2 linked regions of the Homo sapiens genome follow. The protein of the gene in region 1 purifies or fractionates together with the protein of each later gene. This does not show direct contact. Each region holds a gene or a part of one and is shown on either strand. Other genes may lie near its edges.

The links. The genes of interacting proteins can lie anywhere in the genome.
Region 2: the proteins of SLC33A1 (region 1) and GNPAT purify together in Homo sapiens (affinity purification with mass spectrometry; one large-scale study listed by BioGRID and IntAct). This does not show direct contact.

The regions. Positions count from the first base shown.
Region 1 is NC_000003.12:155,830,186-155,834,137, forward strand, and holds part of SLC33A1 (acetyl-coenzyme A transporter 1), read right to left. Parts: intron 3,857-3,952; coding exon 3,672-3,856; intron 3,401-3,671; coding exon 3,283-3,400; intron 1-3,282. UniProt on the Homo sapiens protein: Acetyl-CoA transporter that mediates active acetyl-CoA import through the endoplasmic reticulum (ER) membrane into the ER lumen where specific ER-based acetyl-CoA:lysine acetyltransferases are responsible for the acetylation of ER-based protein substrates, such as BACE1.
Region 2 is NC_000001.11:231,261,469-231,265,211, reverse strand, and holds part of GNPAT (dihydroxyacetone phosphate acyltransferase), read right to left. Parts: intron 2,490-3,743; coding exon 2,360-2,489; intron 1-2,359. UniProt on the Homo sapiens protein: Dihydroxyacetonephosphate acyltransferase catalyzing the first step in the biosynthesis of plasmalogens, a subset of phospholipids that differ from other glycerolipids by having an alkyl chain attached through a vinyl ether linkage at the sn-1 position of the glycerol backbone, and which unique physical properties have an impact on various aspects of cell signaling and membrane biology.

The DNA of each region.
Region 1 (3,952 bases):
ACCCTGTCTCTACTGAAAAATACAAAAAAAAAAAAAAAATAGCCGGATGTGGTGGCAGGCGCCTGTAGTCCCAGCTACTTGGGAGGCTGAGGCAGGAGAATGGCGTGAACCCGGGAGGCGGAGCTTGCAGTGAGCTGAGATCGCACCACTGCACTCCAGCCTGGGCGACAGAGGGAGACTCAGTCTCAAAAAAAATAAATAAATAAAAATAAATAAATAAAAAAAAAGATCCCAGCAATACAAAGATGTGACCTTGGTCCTTCTGTGACATTGAAGAATTTATTCTAGGCTGGAAAATGGGGAATAAATAATTATAAATACAGGAAGTACTGTAAATAGAAGTGCACACATTGTGTTACTGGGGCATAAAGATAAATGAGAGATTAATTCTACCACAAGTAGTCAAGAAAGACTCCACGGAGAAAATGTTAGATGAGGTGGCACTAAAGGATACATAATGCATACAGCAAAATGCAAAACCTCATATTTGTACTGTACCTAAATATGTATCATATATTGCATGTGTATATATACATATTTATATGTATGCATTTATTACATATATAAATACTCAAATATTTAAAGAAATAGGAATATATATATTTTTCTCCTACATATACACAAGAAAAGTATTTCAAAATTTATGTGACAAACTGGAGAAAAACATCCTTAAGAGGCAAAAAGTACTTAAAAGGCAAGAATTAACCTTTAATTTAGAAAGATGGAAACAAACTGTGTTTCAATAATGGTATTCCTTTGAATAGTGTTTTTGGGGGTGTTCACAGAAAAAGGAGTTCCAAAGTCAAATAAGACTGAAAGACACTAACTTACACAAAATTGAAAAGGTTCCTTTCATTGTATGCCTTTTGAAATATTTACAACATACACTCCTTGAGGGCAGGGATTTGGGCATGATTTATTAAGTTATATTTCAGTACTCAGAATGGTTTCTGGCAGGGAATAGGTGTTCACTTAATATTTGTTGAAGAAGCTGGGTGCGGTGGCTCACACCTATAATCCCAGCACTTTGGAAGGCCGAGGTGGGCGGATCACCTGAGGTCAGGAGTTCAAGACCAGCCTGGCCAATGTGGTAAAACCCGTCTCTACTAAAAATACAAAAATCAGCTGGGTGAGGTGGTGCTCATCTGTAATCCCAGCTACTTGGGAGGCAGAAGCAGGAGAATCACTTGAACCCGGGAGGTGGAGGTATCACAGTGAGCCGAGATTGTGCCACTGCACTCCAGCCTGGGCAACAGAGTGAGACTCTGTCTCAAAAAAAAAAAAAAAAAAAAAAAAAAAAAAAAAATTTGTTGAAGGAATCATTAAGGCACTACTTACAGAAGGCTTATGTCATACATCATTTCTCGAATTTATTTGGTCTTGTACCTTTTTTCCCCCATAAAGCATCTGGTTATCTGAGTTTCAGTGATTACACTTCAGGAAATTCTCAAATGAAATCCAAAGCTAAATAAATACTTTTTTTGGGCTATAACATACCGACAGAAATACTGAAGCATTGACTAGTTAAAGTATTTCTTTAACCTTCTATTACATATCTAGCCTTAACTAAGCATGTGCAAAACAGAAAAAAAAATTATATTTGACAGTTTGGCCTCAATAATTTTATAAGCATAGAATTTAGTCTGACAGGATCCACTACAGATTTCTCCTAAATGATTTACTGTATGCACAAAACTACTGAGATTACCTGGTAGTCATATTTTTACGTTTCAGTTAAAAATTAATTCATACATTAGCAAATATAACTTTCAAAGGATATAAGCTAGAAAAATCCAAAGTGACTCAGAAATATGCATTAGCAATAACTGCAGTTAAGTCCCAAAGGTTACTTCTGGGCCTTTGCCATTTACTTGAATCACTTGCATCCAGAACAAAAAAATCTCATTCTGGGCCAGGCGCGGTGGCTCATGCCTGTAATCCCAGCACTCTGGGAGGCTGAGGCGGGTGGATCACCTGAGGTTGGGAGTTCTAGACCAGCCTAACCAACATGGAGAAACCCCGTCTCTACTAAAAAAATACAAAATGAGCCGGGCATGGTGGTACATGCCTGTAATCCCAGCTACTTGGAGGCTGAGGCAGGAGAATTGCTTGAACCCTGGAGGCGGAGGTTGCGGTGACCTGAGATCGTGCCATTGCACTCCAGCCTGGGCAACAAGAACAAAACTCTGTCTCAAAAAAAAAAAATCTCATTCTGCAACAGCAGCTTAGGCTAGAGCAAAGTGGGGATTCCTTCTTTTAAGGATTACAAACATATTTAACAAAGAAAGAAAAAGCAGCTTGACACAGCTTTCAAAATCATAAAGAATAAGTCAAAACTTTCAATATAGAAGCTAAGCCAGGGCCGGGTATGGTGGCTCATGCCTGTAATCCCAGCACTTTGGGAGGCCGAGGTGGGCGGATCACTTGAGGTCAGGAATTCAAGACCAGCCTGGCCAATATGGTGAAACTCTGTCTCTACTAAAAATACAGATAATTAGCCGGGCGTGGGCAGTGGGCAAGCAAGCCAGACTCTGTCTCAAAAAAAAAAAAAAAAAAAAAAAAAGCAGAAGCTAAGCCAGAAACTAAGACCAATACTATTTCTCAATACTTTCAGAAAGAAAAGATATTAGGAATTCAAGAAAGAATGAACTGAAACCTAGGGATAAACTGAGAAATATTTAGCAAGAGTAGAATTTGCTGGCTTTGGAATCAATTCTAAAATGTAACAAATACTTGTTGAATAATTTTTTTTTTAATGAATGAATGAATAAGAAAGTCTCTTTCAGCCGGGCGCAGTGGCTTGCACCTGCATTCCCAGCATTTTGGGAGGCTGAGACAGGTGGATCACAAAGTCAGGAGTCAAGACCAGCCTGGCCAATATAGTGGAACCCTATCTCTACTAAAAATACAAAAATTAGCCAGGCGTGGTGGCACGTGCCTGTAATCCTAGCTACTCAGGAGGCTGAGGCAGGAGAAATGCTTGAACCTAGGAGGTGGAGGTTGCAGTGAGCCGAGACTGCACCACTGCACCCCAGCCTGGGTGACAGAGCAAGACTTCATCTTGGGAAAAAAATAAATAAATAAATAAAAAAGTCTCTTTCTATGAACAGCAGAACTCATTAAGTGAAAAGTCATAAAGTTTAAAGCGCACCATCAATAATTTCTTCAGTGTCAGATTCATGCTTAAAATTTATTATCATTATTTTAAGACAACTGTAGAAAGCTGTCTTCCTTATTTTACACAGAACAGTTTATTTCCTGAGAAAACCACTGCAAGCTTACCTGATGTAAAGCATAACTCAGCAGGACTACGATATAGTAATATATAGGGAATCCCCCTTGATGTTCTACTTTAGGAGTCCACCAAACCAGTAGGGCATATTCTAACCCAAGCAATAATCTATAGAGAAAGAAACATTGAGTTGACTTCCATTTTAGCTTAAATAACAACAACAACAAAAACAGAAATCCGTGTGCCTACCATATGAAAGAAGCTGTATCTAAACCTGTTAGGAGGTTAAAAAGATAAAAGTGCATATAAATAATATTGAAAAAAGATGCTTTTCAAATCTTTTTCCATATATATAATTCTACGCTCAGATATTAGTGGTATTGATGAATGTTCCTCATTTTACCCTTTCTTATTTAGTAAGGTTTTATTTCATTTTTACCTGTAGGGCATGGCTTTGTAAAATGTGTTTAATGGCTGGGGACCTGCAGTGTATTTGCTGATAATCAGAGGCAGTATTATCTGCAAAGGAACCATTGGAACTGCCAATAAGGCTAAATGTTCTTTGGGTACTCCCTCTTCTACCAATTTCAGTCCTGTTACAGCATCTGCTGCTGAAAAACCAATCTGCAATATAAAAACAAAAAAGTATTTTAATTCGTGACTTATGAAATATTTTCCTCCATGCATATGTAAGTTCTTCAAGAACCTCAATTTTATTAC
Region 2 (3,743 bases), on another chromosome or scaffold:
TTATATTTTATTATTTTATTTTATGAGACAGGGTCTCGCTATGTTGGCTAGGTTGGTCACAAACTTCCTGGCCTCAAGCAGTCCTCCTGCCTCGGCCTCCCAAAGTACTGGGATTACAGGCATAAGCCACTGTGCCTGGCCTAAACTCAAACATTATTAAGAAAGATTTCATAAATGTAAGACACCCCTATGATATTATTATACTTTGACATTAAAATACATAAGAGATACCTAATAGAATTATAGAAAAGAAGGGATTCTGTGGGCCAGGTGCTCACTGGGAGGTTACCTTGTGCTTCTCCATGCACCACTCCCTTTACAAGTAGGCCAGCTAGAGCCAGGGGCAACAGCAGAGCAACATGACAATGTCATGATGTCAATGTCTTTAGTCAGCCATGCTGCTGAGCCTGACAACAGACCAATATGTGCCCTTCATGCTCTGGACAGCCAGGCCAAACCCGCTCTCATCTTTTGCCTACCAGGAAAAAACATCAACCTACTTTTGTTGGAAGAGATTAAATAAGGCAAATCTTGTAAGAAAGGAAGATTGCTACCAGCAGTTTTAAAATAGTCTTTCTCTTCATTTCCCCTAGTTTTCAAATAACTTCCTCACAAGTTTGTTCAGATGAAAATGCTTTTAAAGTGCTTAAGTTCTTGGCAGTTTTAACCTTACCATTCACTGCATTTATTAACAAACGTGTATACTTGAATCCTGGCTTTCCTGGCTACCCTAAAAGGGAGTGGATAAACAACTTATATGCCTTAGCAATCCCACTTTTAGGAATCGATCTTACAGGAATAAAAGCACCAATATAAAAATGTATTATGACATTGTTTATAACAGCAAAACTACTAAATTATGAAATATCCACACTGCTGAATATTATATGGCTATTAAAATTAATGTTAGACATGAAGTTGGACCCTTAACTTACACCATATACAAAAATTAACTCAAAAAACCAAAGATCTTAATGTAAGACCTGAAACCATAAAACTCTTAGGATAAAACATAAGGGAAAAGCTTCATGACCTCGGATTTGGCAATGATTTCTTCGATCTGATACCAAAAGCACAGGGAACCAGGGAACCAAAGAAACAAATAGATCAATTGGACTACATCAATTAAAAACTTCCATGCATCAAATAACACAATCAACAGAGTGAAAAGGTAACCCATGAAATGGAAGATAATATTTGCAAATCATCTGTCTGATAAGGGGTGAATATCCAGGATGTAGAAACAATTCCTACAACTCAACAAAAAAAGCCCCAAACAACCTAATTAAAAAATAACGGACTTGAACAGACATTTCTCCAAAGATATACAAATGGCCAATAAGCACACAAAAAAGATGCTCAGCATCACTAATCATTAGGGAAATGCAAATCAAAACTACAAGGAGATACCACTTCACACTCATTAAAATTATTATAAAACATATCAGAAAATAACAGGTGTTGGCAAGGATGTAGAACAACTGGAACTCTTGTGCACTTTTGGTGGGAATGTAAAATGGTGCAGCTGCTAAGGAAGGCAGTATGGTGGTTCCTCAAAAAATGAAAAAAAATTACCACAAGACCCAGCAATTCCATATATACCATTTTTGTATATATATAAAAAAATGGAAAGCAGGGTCTTGAGCAGATGCATTTCCAACTTCAAAAAGGAAGGAAATTCTGACACATGCTGCAACATGGATGAACCTTGAGGGCATTCTGTTAAGTGAAATATGCCAGTCACAAAAGGACAAGTACTGTATGATTCCACCTATATCAAGCATCTAGAGTAGTTCACAGAGACAGAAAGTAGAATGCTGATTGCCCAGGGTCAGGGGGAGGGTAGAACGGGGAGTGTGTTGAATGGGTACCATTTCAGTTTTGCAAGATGAAGAGTTCTGGAGATGGATGGTGTTGATAGCAGCACAACAATGTAAATGTACTTAATGCCACTGAACTATATTTTTGAAGATGACTTAGATGGCAAATTTGATGTTATATGTATTTTATCACAATTAAAAATAAACTTTAAAAAGTTAGATCTATTTATTGCCTAGAGAGGTAGCCATTAATATATTATCAAATAAAAAAAGCAAAAGGCAGCTAATACCTGTAAGTAGTGCAGTCTCATTTTTTAAGCCTACACCAAAGAACCCTGTGTGCATGAACTCCTGCAGATGTCTGTTCAGGCACAGTAAAGCACAGGACAAAGGACATAACTCAAGTTATTCAGTGCTAGGACTGGAAGAAAGGAGGAGAGGCTATTTTCATCATCATCTTCAAATACCTCAGTACTGCTAGAATATGCCAGTGAACTTTTTAATTTTTACAGTTAAAAAAACAGAAAAACAATACATACCCATTCCTGCTGCTATAACTGGCACAGGCAAATCATAATTGTATAGAAGAAAAGACAACATGAGGAAGTCAATGTAACTTCGATGACTAGGCAGCAGAACAACAGGATGCTCCTGGATGGCTCTTTGTAGCTTGAAAGTAAATGTTACATTTTGAATAATTTCAGTTGTCATGTTATCAAATCACATCTCAAATCAGAAAACGGAAGAATAAGTCTATATTTAGAGGGAATACCCATCCTCTTTTTCTGCCTTTTTGCCATACACATAAACGATTTGCTCTGATAAGGTAAAAGTACTGTTTCTAGTTAAACAATTTCACATAATGCAAGAATATTAAAAATGTAAATTTTTATGGATCAGAATAATAACAGTGATGATCGCTAACATATATTAGTTGGGCACTATATTAGCATCATTTTATATACAGTTATCTTACGTGCTTTGTTTAATACCACATAATTAACAAGGTCTAAGCCTTAGCTTTCTTGTTTGTAAAATGGTCATGCATCCAATAAATGGCAGAGCTGTGAATGGAACCCAAGTCAGTCTGACTTAAAAAGCCAACTGTTAACCACTGTATTGAATTGGTTGGTTGTAGTAAGAGAAAACAAAGCTTCTCTTGGAGAGATTAAAAAAAATCTACAAATTCATAGGACAAGGTGAGAAGAATGGTATTTCTCTATGTGCTGGACTCACTGCCAGGGTGAATGGGTGTCATGTGGCTGGGAGGGATAATTTGAGTTTCCAAATATACTCCTCAGGCCATCAATCTCAAGATTCACTGGTATCCATGTGTTATCTGTTTTTTTGAAATCTAAATGTAACAGAGGCCAGGTAATCTGTGATCATCACTTAAGAAATGGCTCACCACCACCCTTGGTCCCAAACACTGTAACATTCTCTGACAGATTCAGGGTATAAGTCAGCAATCTCGAAAACAGTCAGTAGGAAGAAGAAATATTTGACAGGAAAGTAAATGACTGAATTAAAACAAAATATTAAAAGGGATGAGGAGGAAGGCAAGTGAAGTTAAGAGCTTTCCTAGAAGAAAAAAATATAAAACACAAATAAGTAAAAATACTCTTCATAAGGAAAGCTCTTTATGAAATTAGAAAAGTCATCATTTGGCAATCATTAACATAATAATTAATTCAGGCAAAAATCATCAGTGGGTGCAAAAACGAGTGGGGTAAAGTATGATGCAAAACAGGGTATTTAGCCATTTTCAAAGAGTCTTTTCACAAGATATTCATTAATTATAAAGGGAAAAAATAATAACTTTACAGCAGAGAAACCTGGCAGTCATAACGATAACCAACTGATGGAAGTGAAACATCTCCAGTAATGAAACCGACAGGCACCATGCATTGCTGACACGACCCA